Homo sapiens: one gene and its partners. The protein of the gene in region 3 purifies or fractionates together with the protein of the main gene of each other region. This does not show direct contact. Each region holds a gene or a part of one and is shown on either strand. Other genes may lie near its edges.

Evidence for each region. The genes of interacting proteins can lie anywhere in the genome.
Region 1: the proteins of DNASE2B (region 3) and SUCO purify together in Homo sapiens (affinity purification with mass spectrometry; 3 studies listed by BioGRID and IntAct, with this or other methods). This does not show direct contact.
Region 2: the proteins of DNASE2B (region 3) and YTHDF1 purify together in Homo sapiens (affinity purification with mass spectrometry; 3 studies listed by BioGRID and IntAct, with this or other methods). This does not show direct contact.

What each region holds. Positions count from the first base shown.
Region 1 is NC_000001.11:172,606,121-172,612,333, reverse strand, and holds the end of SUCO (SUN domain-containing ossification factor isoform 1 precursor), read right to left. Parts: intron 3,588-6,213; coding exon 3,532-3,587; intron 2,519-3,531; coding exon 2,075-2,518; 3' UTR 501-2,074; downstream 1-500. UniProt on the Homo sapiens protein: Required for bone modeling during late embryogenesis. Regulates type I collagen synthesis in osteoblasts during their postnatal maturation.
Region 2 is NC_000020.11:63,213,132-63,220,365, forward strand, and holds the start of YTHDF1 (YTH domain-containing family protein 1), read right to left. Parts: upstream 3,001-7,234; 5' UTR 2,762-3,000; coding exon 2,735-2,761; intron 2,471-2,734; coding exon 2,446-2,470; intron 2,429-2,445; exon of another isoform or gene 2,317-2,428; intron 813-2,316; coding exon 733-812; intron 1-732.
Region 3 is NC_000001.11:84,394,595-84,401,507, forward strand, and holds the start of DNASE2B (deoxyribonuclease-2-beta isoform 1 precursor), read left to right. Parts: upstream 1-3,889; 5' UTR 3,890-3,970; coding exon 3,971-4,095; intron 4,096-6,913. UniProt on the Homo sapiens protein: Hydrolyzes DNA under acidic conditions. Does not require divalent cations for activity. Participates in the degradation of nuclear DNA during lens cell differentiation.

The DNA of each region.
Region 1 (6,213 bases), about 88 Mb from region 3:
CCACAACTTTAATGTTTTTAAAAATTCAATTAAAAGAATTGTTTTACTTTGCATCCTTGTTCTTACCAATTCCCTAGTTTCCTTTTATTTCATACTGTTTTAATGCTTTACTTAACATTAGAAGAAATAAAATGAGGTTGATCATCAGGGAACACTAAAAATCCCATTGGATAAATATCTATATAGTTTTTGCTTCTTAATAGGCATAAATCTATTATTTTCACTTAAGTTTTTTTTCTCATGTAGTTATGTGAGAGAGGAAAAAATAAACCTCATGTTACAAAATGTTATGCTGTATTTAGATATGAAAAACTGAAATTCTGATAGCATAGGGAGCAAAATGTTTATGTAAAAGTACCATCATTTTGTAGTTGGCTGAAATGTGATCAATATTGAATGGAATGCTGCTATATTTAACTTTAAAAGTGGCAAAAACTTAAATCTCTGTTCAAAGATTAATAATTTCTGAGTTCTCTTTTAAAAGACAGAAGAGCCAGTAATTAATAAAGACAAGTGTTCAGATTTATTTGGAAATTCACAGTTTCTAATGGCACTACAGCTCCGTAGTTACATATTGAAAATTCTCTTCCCACAACACACAGATCACATAATTTCTCACTGTATCTCTGCTCTCATCTGGACCTCTTTTCAAGGGGCTTCTATAAAATCAGGCCCTCTTGCTCTGAATAGCTAATTGTGCAGACAGGAAAGAAATTTAAATCTTCTAAAACACGCTGTTAACCTAAAGCAGCAACTTAAACAAACAAAAAAGGCGTTAAATAAGTCACATTACAAACAATACCCAAGAAAGGTATTAGGCAAGTTTAAAAACAGTTATCACTACTAAAAGTGCTCAATAAGTTATAACTTAAACATCACAACAATAAATGGTCAATTCTCTCCCTTTCAAAAAGAAACATGTTCCACTTTCATTCATTACTGTACAATCATACTAAGAAATCATTTTATTCAAATACAGTTGCTGCCAATTATTTTTTAAAGACAAAAAAAAAGACAGAGACATCGACATCACATATGTATTACCTCTGCACATTTGTAGCCAATACAAAGCAAACATCAAGGAATAATAATCTCTTTAGACTTAACCAATTAGATTAAGCTTGACAAACTCACTAACTGGATCTGTGCATATGTATGCAGGCAGTGATTATATCATGAGACTTGTACTAATTGGCCAAACCTTCAAATTTTATATTCATACTAATAAAAACAGTGAAAGTTTGGAGGATTAGTGTTTATTGTGTATGTTTAAAATGTAAGCTAAAGAAAACCTTCACAAATGGTTAAGTGTGTTTAAAAGGTGAATTTGTCAAAAATTTGTCTGCATATATCAGTTGTTTGCAAAAAAAGATCCTGTAGGGATTTTTCCTCATTGAGTTAGTAACTAAGTAAGAAGTAATCCAGTCTGAATAAGTGAAAATAACAAGAGCATCACCATCTACCTAACAGAACAGACTTAAAAATTCCATTAAGTGTTCATTTCCAGTGAGTTTGCTAAACAAAGATCCAGTTGGCAAGTTTTTAGGATCTTTAGACTGTCTGATCCACACTCCTGAGCTTCAGGCACAGACCCCCTCAAAGCATTGTAGTGTTTGCAGCTTCAAAAACCTAACAAAGTTATAAAAGAAATCAAATAACAGAAAAAGTTATCCCTCCTCTTCCAGTGGCATTATAAATAGACAAAAGGCACATAAATATGGGAAGGTGCAAGAAATAGGAACAAAGCTAAAGGAAGAGGTTTAGGCTTTCATTCCTATCCCACCTAAGGAACTGGGCTTCCAAATTACTTTTGTCCCAGTAATTAATCTTGTGAAAAAACATCTTTATAAAATGTCTACCATTGTCCTTATAGGAAGTGATCAGCTTTGTAAAACTGTAGCTCATTAACCAAGATTGACACAATCCCATCTACTTTTTAAAAAGGTAGAAACCATAATTTCTGAATGCCTTTCCCATTAATATTTTCTCCCTCCCCCAAACCCTTCAAATACTACAGACTGTTCTTCAAAGAACAACAACAAAAAAGTCTTCTGTATGAAAAGTTCAATTAATTTTAGATATGTCCCGAGACTGCTGTAACACCAAATGTTCCCACGGTGATCTCTTTGTTTCCTTTGATTATGTCATGCAGGCTCGGCAATGATCCCGACTTAGTCTGTATTAGAGTTTTTATCAATTTTCCTTGGTCTTGGACTTTAGATCGTCTTCGTTTTAAAGCCCTCTTCTCAGTTTTTGTCTTTTGAGACTGTCCATTGCACAGACTTGTGCAAGCTGAAATGCCACAAAAATAGGACTCTTCTGACTGTGATGAAGTTTCTGAGCTTCCTTCAGATGGAGGACCTTTATAAGAAGAGTGATAAACTTCTCCCATATTAGAAAAATCTCTCTGGTTCGTAAAGGGCTTTCTTCCTTTTATGTCGCCATTGGCTATGGGGTGCAATGGTTCTTCAGGCTTTATGGTCTCAATTTTTTCAATTTTGTACTTGCAGCGCTTCTTCTACAACACAAGTAAAAGAAAAGTTAGTAATGATACTTCCCATAGTAACCTTATCAAACACCTAGAGAGCTGAGCTAATAGAGAAGTGCCACCTCCTGGTGAAAAGTAAAACAGTATTATAAACAGCACAGAACACATACATTGTTATGTTCTATATAGATACTAGCATCATCTTCCCATTTTGTAAATACTACTGAATCAAAACTCTTTAAATTGCTTACCTGCTACCTATGAATATAGGTTTAGGGAGTGATACTAATATCTGAATACCTACTAACTGCCAGAGAGCATACAGGTTGCTTTCATGTATTATGGCAGCTATTAACCCTGAAAGGTCGGTATTTTATCCTTGATTCTTAAATGAGAAAAGCAAGGTTCAGATGTTTGGTTCTTTGCCCAAGTTACAATGTAGTAAGCAGCCGGGTTGAGAATGAATCTTAGGCTATTTGCCTACAAAGCCCAAGTTCTTTCACCTAGATGAAATTACAACTAAAATTAGTATAACTTAATTTGAAAGGCAAAATGAAAAAGCAAAGACTTTGAAGCCAAAAAATCCTAAGTACATTCTGAGTTGCTGTTTTTTTATTAAAAAAAAAAATGAGGATAACATCATCTTCAGGTTGTGGTGAGGATTAGAGGAACGGTGCATGCTCTGTGCTTGGCATGCATTCGGTAATAAATAATGACAATCATCCAAGGATCAACAAATTTTTTTTGTGAAGGGTCAGACAGTAAATATTTTAGGCTTTGCAGGTCACACATTTTCTCTCTTGCATGCTGTTCTGTTTTATCACTCTTTAAAAATGAGAAAACCTATCTGGCTCATGGCCCATATGGCCTGTGGGTCACAGCTTGCTGACCCCTGTTAATATTTATTTACAACATTATCATGATAGAAAATAAACATTCAGTTAAGGACTACTTAAAGGTAATTACCTTAAACCTTTCAACCTCTTTTCTTCATTTATTATCACAAAACATAGCAATAAACTTAAAAAGAAATAAACAATTACCTTCTTTTCTGGAGAAAACTTGAGGGGTTCTACAATGTACAAATCATTTGGGTCTACTGTAAGTAAAAAAAAAAAAAAGCAGATGTAAAATGTAAAGTGGATTTGGTGGATTTGCTATAATTAAACACTAAAATAAGACAAATCATTCATTCCTTATTATCCTCTAGTAATAGAACCAATGAATTTGTATCAGGTTAACTATATATTTATGCATTTTAAATTAGTAAGCAAAAAGAGGCAAGGTGGAAGATGATATGATTCCTATGCTTGACTGGTCGTCTTCAAATAACTATACTTCCTTAAGTTGTTAACTAGTAGCTGGTTATCAACCAATACAATAACGATCTTTCTTTGGGCCCAGCCTCACTCTTTTACCTGATAAGAAAAGAAACATTCCTGGGTAAGCTCACACCAAACCTACAGATCATTTGAATACTTCCCTAAAAGACTAGCCTCTAAACTGTGTCACAAAGGTAGATTAACAATGTGCAACAAGTAGTCGTGACCGTGTTTGGAAGCCAGTTAGAGAAATAAACACAAAAAGAGATCCAAGATATTTTTCTCTGTTTATTACTATGATCAAAACTATGAAATCCCAATCTAAAAACAGCTTGAACATGCAATATATATCACTAAGCAATAATGAATGAACACTTCTGGCATAGTGAGTAAATTAGATTTATTAGTTTTAGCCCAAAGTTTCTAAGGTTTCATTACTCTAAGCAGCTTCAAGATATATCCCAACCCCACCCCCACACTGACAAAATAGACACACATTTTTAAAAGGCTATGAGACTTTAGTCCTATTCAATCCACTAAAAATAAACAATTTAAGGTCTGACAGAGACAAAAGCTTACACATAGTAAATTCACTACAGAAGCTCTACACATTTGGGAAATTTATTAATACAATTCAACCAATTATAATTTTTTACATTATATTTCAGAGATTTATTGAGAAAGTCATCAAATATATGAAAATATCAAAACATCCCTCTAAACAGTCATTTCTACCAGATTACTAATCTTAATTTACTTTCTTTAATAATGATGTCTATTTCTAGAAACAGTTATGTTATTCAGATCAACCTCTACAATGAAAGCAACTAAGTAATGATAGTTTGTTTTTTTTAAAAAAAATCACTAAAAGCATTGAAAAGCTGCCAAGAAAGTAATCCCTAGGCTAAAACTGAAAGAAAAGTGGGAACCCGGACAGTCAAGTAGAAGACAAAAGTCATTTTTGCCCTGAAAACATTTGCCAACACAAGAATATATGAACTTTGGTTCTGATGGTATCATAAGGGAATGGATCAGAAATCAGGTCCTAGGGCCCACCCAAAGTTTAGTGTAATAAGATACCATCTCCCTGTGTACAGTAAACTGAGACTCCAAAGGACTATATTCTCAGGTAAAGAATGAAGCCATGCATGAACTTGCAGTCCAAATTATCATCACCTGGTGGCCCAACAAACCACAAGTCATGAATGTAAGGTATTACATGAATGTAACACACACACAAATTCCCTCTCAAATAAGAACCTATATTCTAGGCCTCAAATTATCCCTACAAATAACTTTTCAAAGAGAAAAAGTAGCACACAAAGACACAACATACCCTGAGTAAGAGCTTACAAAGACAATGAACAGACTCACAAAAATTTAAGATATTAGATTTATCAAACACAAACTATAAAGATAATTATGCTTAATATGTCTAGAAAATAAGCTTGAAAATATCTGCAGGAAACATATAACAAGGAAAATACAGACCTGGATTTTTAAAAAATACAAAAAGAACTCCTGGAAATGGAAAAAATAACTGAAATTGAAAACCCAATGAATAAATTTGCAACAGTAAGACTGCTGGCCTGGAAACACATCAGAAGATATCATCCAAAATACAGCATAAAAAGTCAAAAAGGTGGAATGTTTACAAGACAGGGAAGATATACGGAGAAGTAATATGTTTAATTAAATATGAGAATCTAAAAGAGACTGGGGCACAGGGAATATCTGGGAGGAAAAAATAATGGTTGAGAATTTCTCAATAACAAGTAAAAGAAACCTACAAATCCAGAGCTCCAAAGAGCCTCACGAATCTCAAAATGATAAAGAAAAAGAAGAGGAGAATATTTCAGTTTTAACTAATGACAAATGAAAGCTCTGAAGAATAAAAACATTAGTAAACGTGGGGTAAATTTAAATGAACATTAAGTGTAAAAAGAAATACCTTGTTGAGTTAAAATTAAGCAGAAAGAATAGAATTAAAATATACAAGAACAGTAACATAAATAAGGCTTGGGACAAATAAGAGTTTTAAGATCTATGTATTGTTAAGGAGAAGATACAAGTATTGATGAACTTGAGACTTTGGCAAACATTAATACTTCTGACTTCTAGGGTAACTAGTAAAAGAACAGAACCAGTACACAACTTCCAACATAATGGCAGTAAAAGGGAATATTTACTTCCTCCCCAATAAAAAATCTTAATGAAAGCATGGAAGGGGAAAAAAAAAAAAAATTAAAAGGGATACCCCTGCCCATCTAATTTTTATAAACCTTACATACCAAAATCCAACATGAGAAAATATTACATGCCAATCTTATTCATATAGATGCAAAATTTCTAAATAATTATCTAACAAAATTATGTAGAAATAATATATACAATACAAAATTC
Region 2 (7,234 bases), on a different chromosome or scaffold from region 3:
GAGTTAAAATTGAAACCAGGCTGGGCGCGGTGCCTCACGCCTATAATCCCAGCACTCTGGGAGGCCGAGGCGGGTGGATCACCTGAGGTCAGGAGTTTGAGACCAGCCTGGCCAACATGGTGAAACCCCGTCTCTACTAAAAATACAAAAATTAGCTAGACGTGGTAGTGGGTGCCTGCAATTCCAGCTACTCCCGAGGCTGAGGCAGGAGGAATGCTTGAACCCGGGAGGCAGAGGCTGCAGCAGGCTGAGATCACGCCATTGCGCTCCAGCCTGGGTGGCAAGAGTGAGACGCTGTCTCAAAAAAAGGACTGAAACCCAGGCGGCCTCTGGCTCCACAGTCGCTCCACAGCCCAGCTCTTAGCTGCCTCCCCAGACCACAATTCCAATCATCCAGAGCTAAGAATAACCAGGAAGCTTCAGAAACACACACACACCTCCACTGCGTCAAAGGCAAGACACACCACTGACCCACAAACACTAGAGCCAACTAGACCTGTTTGCATCCCAGCCCCAGTGGGATGCCGCCTCCTCCACAGGGAAAATCATTTTCACCCCACTGATGCCCAAGGTTAACAGGAGTCACATCTTCATGAGCAGTCTATCATTCCTAATACTTTATAGTCTGCTGCTTTGTTGTTTAGGATAATTTAAAAATCAGAAATGACAGTAAAGGTACAAAACAATTAAAACCAACTTAAAAACAAATATATGCTAACAAAATAAACTCACCTGATTTGACTGTCCAGTAAGGTAGGGCTCAAAGTCATTGTCATGAACTGTATCCTTCTGATGTAACGAACCATTTTGTACTAGAACAAAAAGTTGCAAAATATTACCCTCAAATTTTAAAAGATTACTTTTAAGCTTGGAAGGCAAAGTTAGCAAAGTCTATTTCCATCTATTTCTAGCAGAAATTATGCTTTAATTTTAAAAGGAGTACAACCAGTATAGAACTGATGTTTATACAACTAATTAGAAGGGGGACGGGAAACTTTCAATAATTTAGGATAAATTTTAAATAAAGGCTTAATCGTAATTTGGTGAGATTAACCAAATCAAGTGTTAACACATAATGCAAGGAACACATAACCAGGGTGAAAACTGACATGGTCTAAGAAGACTTATGTGTGGCAAAAAGAAGTGGAGCCTCCAAAAGCCCAAATGCAGAATGTATGCCCAAACGTATGGAGAACGGAGGGAAGAAAACTTAGGAGGGAAGGGGCTGCAACTGAAGGACTGTTGGGAGCTATTATCTGACTCTCCACAGTGAACCCCAAATATCTGAGACAGGTCTCAGTTAATTTAGAAAATTTATTTTGCCAAGGTTAAGGACACACCCATGATACAACCTCAGGAGGTCTTGACAACATGTGCCCAAGGTAGTCGGGGGACAGCTTAGTTTTATACATTTTAGGGAGACATGAGAACCATCAATGTAAGATGTACATTGGTTTGGTCCGGAGAGGCGGGACAACTTGAAGCAGGGAGGGGGCTTCCAGGTCATAGGTAGATAAGAGACAAACGGCTGCATTCTTTCGAGTTTCTGATTAGCCTTTCCAAAGGAAGCAATCAGATAAGCATTTATCTCAGTGAGCAGGAATGACTCTGAGTTCTGTCCTTTGTCCACCAGGAATTTCCTTGTGGGCAAACTGTGGGGGAAGTATGTAACTTTTTTTGTCTTAGAAGCTATCTTTTTCAGGAATAGAATGGGAGGCAGGTTTGCCCTCAGCAGTTCTCAGCGTAGCTTTCTCCCTTTGGCTCAGTGATTTGGGTGCCCCAAGACTGGTTTTCCTTTTACACCACTTACCTTCCCACTGTTATTATGCTCAGCCAGAAAAAGCAAGCAAAGGTAAATAAAGTGCTGGGCCTTTTCCAATCTTAAAACACGATGAACCGTATTTGGTTACACCTGAGCTGACACACAAACTGGCTAAAAAAGTGTTCCAAGTAAACGTGAAGTGTCACTTAACAGTTTTCACATGAGTGCGCTCTGAGGGTTTATCCCAAGCCATAATGTCACAGGAGATGCTAACAGACTTGGAAAACGGGCTGCAACTACCGGGGATGTGGAGCTTAGCCTGCAGAACCTTGGACTGCCCCTCTCCTAGAGCAGCCCCTGCTGGGCGGAAAAAGGCAAGTCGCTCAACCCCTGCGGCCATGTCCACCCGGCTCTCCTACCTCCCCTTCCCCAAAGCAAATCCATGATCATGCGGTGGGGAGAGACGGGCCCAAACTACTCTGAGCAATCATTTATTCACTTCTTGAGAAGCCCCTGTCTTCGACCTGTCAAATCTCCCAGAATCGTCGCACAACCTCAAGTTTTATCTCCCTGAAGCTGGCGGAAGAGAGAAAGTTTCCGGTTCCAGACGCAGCTTCCTGGACCGTTCCTTCCCCGTCCTCCTCCACTCCAGCCCGCGCCGGCCGTCCCGGGACTCCGCTCACCTTTATTATCTTGTCCTTTTGTTCTCTGCACCGCCGCAGGCCGGGACGTGGGGTACACACAACCCGGGGGAAGAGGGAAACACAAAGTTATTCACCAGAGAACTGGTCTCCAACGGGCCGCGAGCTCCGCCGGCCCCGACGCGCGGTCACGTGCGACCCCGGCCCCGAGACCCCGGTCCCGCCTGGGCCCGGCCTCCGCGACCCCGGGCTCTGCGTTCCAGCCCCAGGACCTCAACCCAGACCCCGCGCCTCGGCCCCGGCCGCGGCCCCTGTAACCCGGCCCCGCTACCTGGGTGTCCACGCTGGTGGCCGACATGCTTCATGAACAACTAGACGCGGGGCCGGGGCGCCCGCCGGCTCGGGCCTCCCCTAGAGGCCGGGCCTGTCACCCTAGCTCGCGCGGCCCCGGGCCCCGCCGCCAATTCCCCGGGCGCCGGCCGGGCGGCGGCGGCGGCTGCTGGGCGCGCGGGCCCCTGGCGAGGCGGCAGCGGCGGTGAGCCCGGGACGCGGACGCACTGAGGAGGCGTCGACTCCAATGGCGGCGGCGGCGGCGACAGCAGCGGCGACGGCGGCGGCAGGGGACGAGACTGCGCGGCGTCAGCGTGCACGCGGGGCAGGCCGGGAGCGCCGCGCCGGGCCGCCACACTTCGCGCCTGCGCGCTCCCGTCTTACGGGATGGATTTCGCTCTCAGGTCCCAGTCTCGTGCGGCGGGGCGGGGACCGCAGCCGGCTGGGCGGGGAAGCCCTGAGCCGGGGAAGTCACGTGGGGCGTGTCCGGAGGCGCCGCGGGGCCTGGCGGGAAGGGGCTGGCGGGCTGCTGCCAGGTGTACAGCCGCCCACACACACCCCGGCCACAGCCGCACCCCCGACGCGCTACCGGCACTGAGGCCTCTGTAGTTTTCCCCAAGGTCCGAAGACTAAACGCTGTTCTGGTCCGACAGCTGGGCTACGGGTCTGTCCGGGGTCGGTCTGCCCTTCCCCCGCGCGCAAACACCTGCCCGCCCAGAGCTCCGAGCCCCCGCGTGTTCCAGGTCGCGCGCCTCGGCCCTTGCCGCGGGACCTGCGGGCTTTGTTCGCTTTGCGGCCCTGGCCTTCAGCCGCAGCGGAGCCCTGGGCCCGGTCCCGGAGGTCAGCTGTTGTGTGGATGCACCCCTGGACCTGCGAGAGGCTCGCCGGCTTATAACCAAGTTCTCATGTTAGATTCTTGACCCCGATTTCATCACCAGGAGGAAAAGCAGTGCTCTGTGCCCCAGCCTAGGCCGGGCCAGGGGACTTGTCATCTTTGTTCGAGGATGGACAGCCCCTTCTTAGCAGCAACTGTGCAAAGAGAGCCCAGTTCTCAGTTCCTAACCCCTCAGCATCCCCAACCTGGACGCCCTTCTGGTCAAGGTGTTGAATTTCGCTCCCTGCAGCCAGTATCCAATCCTGCCACCCTTGTGGCTAACTCCCTACAGAGGCTTCCAGGTTGATATTTTTCTTTCCAGCTCTGGCAGCTGTAACATCTTCACGTGGCCTGGATCTGGGTCCTGCTAAAGGAGAAAGACCTGGAATGGGGTGTCAGGCAGGTTGACGTCAAATGAGTGTTTTCCACAAAGTGGGCCCGGGCAGATGCGCTAAGCAGGGTGAACAGTGACAGCAGGGACGGCAATGGAGTCCCAAGACGGCTCCAAGCCTGGACATCCGCATCAGTGGGGTAGCAGACAGCCTCTCACACTGCTGCAGGAGGAGGTGGAAACTGCCCCCAGCAGGCCGGTCAGCCACAGAGAGGACTGCTGCTCCAAGTTGCTCCAGGTCTCCCTGGAGCCCTGCCTCGCCTAAAGCTGGGGAAAGCGGGCTGGGCTTGTTTCCCTGGAACAGAGCTGGGGGATGTCTGGTGCCCTGAGGATGAATCTGGATCCCCTGGGACTTTGATGTGTTTGGGCCATGGGCAGACATCTCAGGCCAGGATGAAATCTGTGCATTTGGGGTACATCCGAAAATGAACAGCACGTTTCCAGGATGGTGGCCCACATGGAGAAGATGTGTGGGGATTGTAGGGACAGTGGGGTCCCTGGGGGCACCCTGCCACCTGCTTCTGTGTGATAAGGCCTGCGCATCCTGGGCAGGCCCTGAGTGCCTGCTTCCCAGGACACTGAACTGTTTGGCGGCCAAGACTGCAGCAAGGGGGTGTCTGGGTGGTCAGAGTAGACACTCGGACTCTTGGAGCCCCTGTCTGTCTTCTCACCCAGCTCCCATCCCTGGGCCAGGACGGTGCAGTGGTCACCACTGGAGTTCAGAGCCTCACAGCCAGTTACAGGGCCTTCAGCCTCAGGCCTACTTTCCTCCTCCGTGGTGGGTTAATTACTCCCCTTTCACAGGATGAGTGTGTGGAAGAAACTGGGTATGCAGCCCTTGGCGTCAGGCCAGGGCTCTGTCAACACTGGCTGTTACCTGCTGCCTTCACCCACAAATGCCCAGCCAGTCACAGGAGGCAGCACTGGCCCTGCGGGAAGTGGCCACTCCGAGCTTAGGGGCCTTCTTAGATGGCTGAGTGCCGGCAATGCAGGACCCTGGAGGTGTTTCAGTTTCCTGGAGCTATCTCAACAAAGTACCCGGAACTGGGGGGCTTAAAATAACGGCAATTTATTCTCTCCCAGTTCTGGAGGCCAGAAGTCTCAGATCAGTATTGCTGGGCTGAAGTGGAGACAGAAGCTCCTTCCAGGGCCCTCGGGGAGGATCCTAGCCTCCTCCAGCCTCCGGTGGAGGCCGCAGCCCTTCCTGGTCTTTCCTCCTCGCCTCCGTCACCTCATGGCCTTTTCCTCTGTGCCTGTGTCTCTTCTTATAAGGACACTCATCTGGATTTAGAGCCCACCCTAATCCAGGATAACCTCATCGTCTTGTGATTATATCTGCAAAGAACCTATTTCTAAATAAAGTCACGCAGGTACCAGGTGGACATGAGTTTTGGGGGTACACTCTTCAGCTCACTACAGAGATCACTGGGGAGGCCTCACAGTGATGCCTATGGAGAGATTTTGGAGGGTGACTCCTGGGGCTGAGTAGGTTCTACTCACAAATGTAGATGGAAGGAGAGGCCCCCACAGTGAGGCCTGAGGAGGCACCACCATGCCAGCCTAGCCCCACTGGCCAGGGAAGAGGCTGGCAGGATCCCACAGCCACTGCCCGGACCCACCCAGGCTTTTGCTGTGAACTCCAGAAGGCTCCATGCTGACCCTGACATGGAAGGAGACTGGGGGCTGCCCAGGGGCAGGACAGGTCTGGTTGGCGGGAACAGGGGGCCCTAAAGTGAATTGAATGCAGGGGGTGTGGCACCAGCAGGGGGTGCTGAGGTCCCCAGGCCAGCTCTGGGGGGAAAGCCTTTATCTTGGCCAGGCCTGAGGACCTGGGAGGGTGTCACAGAAAACCAGGAGTTGAGCTGCCTGTAACCTTGGAGGGCCACGTCCACTGCCCAGCCTGCCCAGGTTCACACCCCAGCCCAGCTCTCGGCCAGGAAAAGGGAGGTCACCCAGCACCGAATGTCAGGGGACAACTGTCTCTCCCTCACAGGGAGCAGGCAGCTCCTCATGTCATGGATGGAAACGGATCAGAGGGCTTTGGCCACTCCTCTGGGTGGCCCAGCGGTCTTGAGACAAAGCCTGCCATTTCTAAGCCTGTGCCGTCAATGACAGACAAGAGCCCATCCCCTGTGGGCCGTCTGCCTTCAGACGGGAACCTTCTTGCTCGGGGAACCTGTTGCTCATCCAAGAGCCCTTCCTAGCAGTACCCGCTCCTGGCAGCACCCTCAAGTGGTATGGGATTGTCTAAACATGACTAGCATTAGGAAGGTTTGGGTTTTTATTTATTTGAAAGTCACACAGGCGCATGGTTAAAAAGCTATCTTTGCACTCAAAGGATATAAGGTGGGAAGCAAAAACCACCACCCCCAAACCCCTCAGAGAGGGAGCCCTCCAGATGCCTGCCTGTGCATGCAAGCATGAGTCTCTGTCTCCACTATCTGCCCTTGCATCTCACGTGTTGGGAAACCGCACTTTGGGGATCCACAGTGCTGCTGAGTATCAACACCCGCCGTCCACCCACCTCGTCCCTCTCCAGGGAGGGCATGGGCTCCAGCCTCATCCAGTGAGTGTCCTGGCCCCAACACACATGCACACGTGTGCGAAGACACCTGGCAGGAGGCTCCTGCCCATGGAATCACTGGGCCAAAGGCGCTTACACTGGCCATTGTGCTGATGTTGCCAGATGGCCCCCAAGGAGGCTGTACCAAAACCCCCAGCCAAGAGGAGGTTTCTGAGCTGGGTGCAGGGTCCAAACGCTGTGGGCCCTGAATTCAGATGATCCCTGGCTGAACCAAACCCCTCCTGAGTGCTGGACACAGCTCACCCTGCAGCTGGCCTCTGGGGGCTCTCAGTGAAGATACCCATCTGTCTCGATGGACACCAGCCACTCACGCAGCTGCCCTCTCCACGAATGCTGTCTCAGGTCCTCATCTCCTCCCTCACCTCAACCCCGGGCTCATCCCCAGTCGGCAGGCCTCCTTCCAAAACCGCTCCCCACCGTACTCCCTGGCGGGGCTGCTTTGTCCTTGATGAAACTGGCTCCTGCTCTCTTGGTTCCTCCTGCCTCCCTGTGCCTTGGGAGTGCACTGACATGGAGTGTGCTGACGTGGAGTGTGTGGAGTGCGCTGACGTGGAGTGCGCTGATGAGTGTGTGGAGTGGGCTGACATGGAGTGGGCTGGCATGGAGTGTGTGGAGTGGGCTGACGTGGAGTGCGCTGACGAGTGTGTGGAGT
Region 3 (6,913 bases):
TCCTCCCACAACAAGTACATCAGCTTTTTCCTTCAGTATGTCAACTTCTAGATTTTACTCAATCCATCAACAGTCTTCTAAAAATCTGAACAAAAATAAGCTGAACTTTAACAGATAAATTTTATGGTGTGTAAATAATACTTCAAAAAGCTATTGGAAATAAATAAATAAAGCCAGCATCCTGACTCCCAGGAGTCCTCAAAGGACAACTGAACTTTGATGAAGCCAGTAGAGACCAGGTTCTTGAGAAACCCAACTTTATCTCAACCCTCAAAAATCCTCACAGAATGTGAACTCATAGCCAAAAATCAAAAGTACATACAATAGCAAGGTATTATAACAAAGAGCTTCAGAAATAACAAATAGCAAAGTCTGACCTGCAAAGACTTCAGGTATTTGAATAAGATACAAAAATATAAAATAATATATTTAATATTTTTACAGAAATAAAAGAAAAGATTGGGTGTACGAGCAAGAAACAAGACCATAAGAAAGACCAAGCGAATTTGAAAAAAAAAAATAGAACTTGTAAAAATGCATTAATAAGTGGATTAAGAAACACATTAAACATAACTCAAAAAAAGAATTAAAATATATGTAAGTATAGTTTGTCAATGTACAAATAAAAAGTAAGATTTTTCAAGAAAATATTTTTTAAAAGAATTAGTTATTTGGAAGAGATAGATTAGGTAACAGATTAATGCTGCCAAAGAGCGAATTAGAGAACTGGAAGACAGATCTAAATAAATAATCATAAGGATTAATGCAGACATACAAGGAGCTAGAATATATGAACAACACATAAAATGTACTAGAAAGATATAATAAAGAGAATGTGGAAAAGGCACTATTTGAAGAGCTCAAGACTGAGATTTTCCAGAATAATTGGGTGACTACAAAACTTCAATCATGAAATTAAAAGCCCATTACCTAGAAAGAATTCTTACTTGTACACTATATAGTACTTGGCCAAGTTACAATGAAGGCGTTTTCTACTGTTTTTAGAGGCAATCAGGTTATGAAGGAACTATGGCACTTACATAACATTATATTTCTTGGGCTTCAAAAGCAGATAATATTATGAAAAACATTCTGCACAGTTTGCATTTTCCTCACTCACCAAATTCATAGGTTTTTTTCCAAATTACTTCACTGTTTTTAGTAAAAACTGAAACAGACTGGACTCTAGGTTTTAGGTAATGTTGAAATCCCTGGAGATCTTCAGTGTCTGGTACAATATTAGACACAGTAGTGATGGCATAAGAAAGGTTGTTGACTGACAACCAGCATGATCAGGTTAGCAATAATGGGAGATAAGGAAGTTTATTGAAAGTGACATCTGAAAGAAACCAACCTAACAGTGTCTTCCCAGACCTTGAAATAAAATTGGATTTAGCAAATATCATTCTAATACAGATGTCCCCCAACCACCTTACAGGAAAAGCTCAGGTTGTAGTAAGAATAATCTTAGCTAACATTTATGAATCACTTACTATTACCAGGCACTGTGCTAAGTGTAATAAGGAGAAGAAAAAAGGAATGATTTTAAATCCTACTCAACAAACTGTCTTTAGCCCTACATAACTGAAAACAATTTGCTTACATTCTCTAAATGCATCAGTGAATCCTACTGGTATGTTTCTATTATTAGTTGTAATACCAAAAAGTCTCACAGGTAAATAAATAAGTAAATAAATAAAATTATTTTGGCCTGGTGCAGTGGCTCACACCAGTAATCCCAGCACTTTGGGAAGCTGAGGCGGGTAGATCATCTGAGGTCAGGAATTTGAGACCAGCCTGGCCAAAGGTGAAACCCCATCTCTACTAAAAATACAAAAATTAGCCGGGCCTGGTGGTGGGCACCTGTAATCCCAGCTACCCAGGAGGCTGAGGTGGGAGAACCACTTGAACGTGGGAGGTGGAGGTTGCAGTGAGCTGAGATTGCACCACCGCACTCCAGCCTGGGCGACACAGCAAGACTCTGTGTTTACTTTAACAGAGAAGAGTAATCTCTCTCTCTCTCTCTCTCTCTCTCTCTCTCTCTCTCTCTCTCTCTCTCAGTATACATACATACATACATACATACATATATATATATATTTGAGACAATCTCACTCTGTCACCCAGGCAAAAGTGCAGTGGTACCATCATGGCTCACTGCAGCCTCCACTTCCTGGGCTCAAGCAATCCTCCCACCTCAGCCTCCTGAACAGCTGGGACTACAGGCATGTGCCACTATGCCCGACTAATTTTTTTTTTATTGTTTGTAGAGATACATTCTTGCTATGTTGCCCCGGCTGGTCTTGAACTCCCAGGCTCAAGCAATCCTCCTGCCTTAGCCTCCCAAAGTTTTGGGATTACAGGCATAAGCCACTGCGTCCAGCTGATAATTTTTAAAAAAACTTTTAAAAATTGACAAAAAGGTTGGGGTTGTTGAAATCCTTTTTTCTGAACACAGGAAGAAAATATATAAAACAAAATGAGAACAGGCACAGTGGTTCATGCCTGTAATCCCAGCACTTTGGGAGGCCGAGGTGGATGGATTCCCAGGCCGAGGTGGGTACACTCCAGCCTGGGCAACAAGAGCAAAACTTCATCTCAAAATAATAATAATAATAATACCAATGGAGGAATGGGTAAGAAAAATATTTCTTCATTTAACCTGCAGAAAGCTGTGAATCTACCAAATACAGCATAGTCTTGGCCTCAGGGCAGTGAGTTTCAAACTTTAGGGTACACCAGCATCACCAATAAGCTTATTAAAAATATAGATTCTTGAGCCCAACTGGAAGAATTCTGATGTAGCAGGTTTGGAATAAGTCCTAGAATTCTGCCTTTTTTGCAGGCACCACAGGTAATTGGGCAGGTGGTACAGAGTCCTCCTCCCAAAACTCTGTCTTAGGATAGAGACACAAGCCTTCCCCTTTTCTATGAATCCTGAGAATTGTGAACAGTTCTAGTGCAACCACAGAGGTAATCTGATTTACAAGGGTTCAGTTTGGTCTGGATCCTCTGATCTGGAACTATTATAGTTATCATTGTGATTATCAGAGAGACAGATTAGGGGCAGCATTATTTCCAGGCATGATGTAAACTGCTATTTATTATGATGGCAGCTTTAATAATTGATGCAAAAGTATGCATTAAAGAAATTATTTTCATATGTCTATCTACTCCTTCCCTGATTCACAAAGAAATTGGTCTCACCTTTTTATAGTTGTTATGGTAGTGGGCCATTTTATTTTGGTTTTCTACTTCAGATTCAGCTTCGAGAATGAGAAAGCATAGTTTGGGCAAAATAGATGTTTGTAACATTTTTTATTAACCTGAAGAGTGGGTGATCAATATGTTTACCTATTGCATAGCAGCCTGAAGCACCACATTGAGTGGCTAAAACCAGGAAGATGGAGAGAATATGTAAACATCTTTGGTAAAATACAGTTAAATTTACTGTTACTTTGAAGCAACCCTTTGAAGTATCCCTTAGCAACTGGTTCCTTAAGACAGAGATTATTAAGTGACAGATCCTAATTATTACTAAGACATAAGGTTTTATCATTTCTGTTTAATGTACGAACCACCTGCATTTGCTCTCATTCATTGAGTCAAACAGGAGAAGACATGAAATATATTTAACATCTACTTATTAAAATGAAGTCCCCCTGCCCAATGAATTTCATACAACAATGTTCACTCCAAAGAGTGAACTATCTTTCCCTATTTTTCTGCAGAACTTTTTGATGACTTTGCAAACCAGTCAACAATTCAGCACAAAGGCATCCAGAGTCACGCTGGCATGTTGTGACAGAATCGCACAATTACATGGGATCCATCCCACTCTGAAAATGCCCCGAACAGCGAACAGCACAGGTAAATCAAATCAAACGTCAGAGCCAGCACAGCCTGAGAGCGCCTTGAAACTCAGACTCCACAATCTATGGGGAAAGTGTCCTGCTGTGGCATGAAATAAATGAAACAGAAAATGATGGCAAGACTGCTAAGAACATCCTTTGCTTTGCTCTTCCTTGGCCTCTTTGGGGTGCTGGGGGCAGCAACAATTTCATGCAGAAATGAAGAAGGGAAAGCTGTGGACTGGTAGGTAAATGAAATGGAAGGACTGCTGCATGCAAACAGCCTCGGTACAGAGTTGGCCTGGCTCACTGCGAAGTTCCTAAGGGGAATGTCCATTCTCTTTCCTCCCTTTACAAATAAAGGAAGTTAAAGTGTGCAAATCGGCCAAACTCCCAGGCAGGGGTAGGCTTCTGAGTGACGGAGTTTCCCCCTGAAAAAGAGCTGAGCAGCCCCTCTTGGGCCTGATTCACTGTTCTCAGCGGGGCAAGGCTGGTAGCCACAGAAGTGGGATTGAGCTGACAGCTTCTGTGAGCTGGCAATTTCTTTTAATTACATCATGGCTTTTCCTAACAGAACACTTCCAACATCCTTTGAAAGACTGACAGAGTAAAGAAGGCAGATTATTTTTTTCTGAAAATGGAGCATGTGCTGCTCCTTATGAGAAAGAGAAGGGGGACCTGGTCACACACAGCACTGTTTGCCTAACATCGGTTTGTTTGGAAGCAGAGGCAGCTGTTGCCATGATTGGTACGTAGGCCACTGGCCTGTTGTACAGTGTCAAAGACATTAAATGCTGTGTTGCATTATAGTCATGGGTTCTCCTAAAGCTTTAACTACTTTTTCACCCTTTAATTGGGATATTTAGGTTTGCCATAATGGTTGGTGTCAAGCTTTTTGTGTAAACTTCAGGCTACAGAACACAGATATACTCAAGGCAGTAGTCAGTCTTTCCTCAGTTACTGAGCTCAACAGAGGTCTGTGTGGAGTTTTGAAAATATAAATATGAACGAAACATGGTTCCTACCCTCAAGGACCTCACAGTTATGTGGTAAGGGCATAGGTGGAACACTGGGGAACAGAGAGCCCAGAAAACTTCTCTAAGGATGTAATTTTTGAGCTAAGTTTTAAGAACAATTAAGAAGTAGCTGGAAAAAGAAGGGATGTGCAAGAGCATCTCAGGCCAATGAAGGAGCAATGAGGAGGTAGAGAGGCAAGAAGCAACATGGAAATTTGGGAGTTGCAAAGTAGTTTGGTATTGCTGGAACTTCAGGAGAATACAGGAAGATGACCGGAGGTGAGGTTAGAGAGGTGGGGACAGCCAAGGGGTCTGTGTGCTGAGCTACAAGGTTTGAACTTGACATTGAAAGGGAGCTATTGGAGGACTTCACGCAGGGGTGTGAATGGTCAGATTTGCACTTTAGGAAACCCATTGGCAGTACTATGAGGGCTGGATGGATGGGGAGCAGCCTAGAATCACTGAGACCAGGAGCACTTTTGCAGCATTACAGGTGAGAAGAGGTGTAGACCTGAGTTAAAGAAGCGGTCATGGAAATAGAAAGAAGGACATGCTGAGAAGACTTGGTGATGGATGGGCTGCAGCCAGTAGGAGAAAGGGAGATGTTAAGAAATAATTTTAGGTTGGCCAGGCGTGGTGGCTCACGCCTGTAAGCCCAGCACTTTAGGAGGCCTAGGCAGACAGATCACCTGAGGTCAGGAGTTCAAGACCAGCCTGACCAACATGGAGAAACCCCATCTTTACTAAAAATACAAAATTAGCCAGGCATGGTGACGCATGCCTGTAATCCCAGCTACATGGGAGGCTGAGGCAGGAGAATTGCTTGAACCCAGGAGGCGGAGGTTGTGGTGAACCAAGATCGTGCCATTGCACTCCAGCCTGAATAACAAGAATGAGACTCCGTCTCAAAAAAAAACAAAAAACAAAACAAGAAAGAAAAAGAAAGAAATAATTTTAGGCTTCTGCTTCTGAGACTGCATGAATATGTTCCCTAATAGTGTGGGATGAGCAGATTTGGAGCAAAATATTATAAATTTGGTTTCAAAAATACGGAGTTGGGGGTTAATGGGACATCTTTGAGTTTAGGTTTCTCTGGACCTCAGCAGAAAGGTCTGGGCTAGAAACAGACTGAGGACTCTTGAGTACATAATTAGAGACAGTCACCCAGGAAAAATGTTTAAAAGTACTAGCTCTCAACTGGTGTGCCACGGCACACTGATAGTTCACAAACCCTTCACTGGTGGGCCACCAAATTGTGATTGATATGGAAAATCATTTTTGCCACAAGTGAATGGACATATTACTTAGCAATGTCTGTTAGAGAGAATATAAGCAACTTGTTGCCAAGCTGCTAACATTTATTGAGAAAGGTAAGGAAAGAGACCATCAAGTCAGCACCAAAGAATAATTTCATGTTTCCTGCCACATGTGAGGACCTGACCCTGTAAGAAAGCATAAGCAGGGCAGGAAAGAGTTCACTTAAATTAAGTATAAGACCGAAGGGGACCAAGTGAAGAGTGTGCAGCTTTTACGGGTTTGTGACACTGTTGTATGGTAATAGTGTATATATTATAATGTTTGGTGCACTGTGAGTGTTTAGGGGTTAATGGTGGGGTTCATGCTATTAGAAAGTATTTGGCTAGATCAGTGGTTCTCAACCGAGGGTAATTTTGCCCTCAGAGGATTTTTGATAATGTCTGGAGATAATTTTGATTGTCACAACTTGGCAGTGCTACTGGCATCTAATAGGTAGAGGGCAGGGATCTTACAATGCACAGGACAGCTCCCACAACAAAGAATGATCGGCTGAAAATGTGAATAGAGCACACTGAGAAACGCTGAGCTAGGTAATCCAATAATGCCTTAATGCTGTCTTGGCTGAGCTACCTCTCCTCCCTGTGAGATATCCAAGGGAGATATACAAATGGAAAACAACAGTAAAGGAAGGAAAGGGCCTACTTAATTACTTGGTTTTAGCCCTGAATCTTCAAGGCAGAGTATTCGGATAAACTGAGCTGAGGAATGCAGCTTATGACAGGGGCTCAA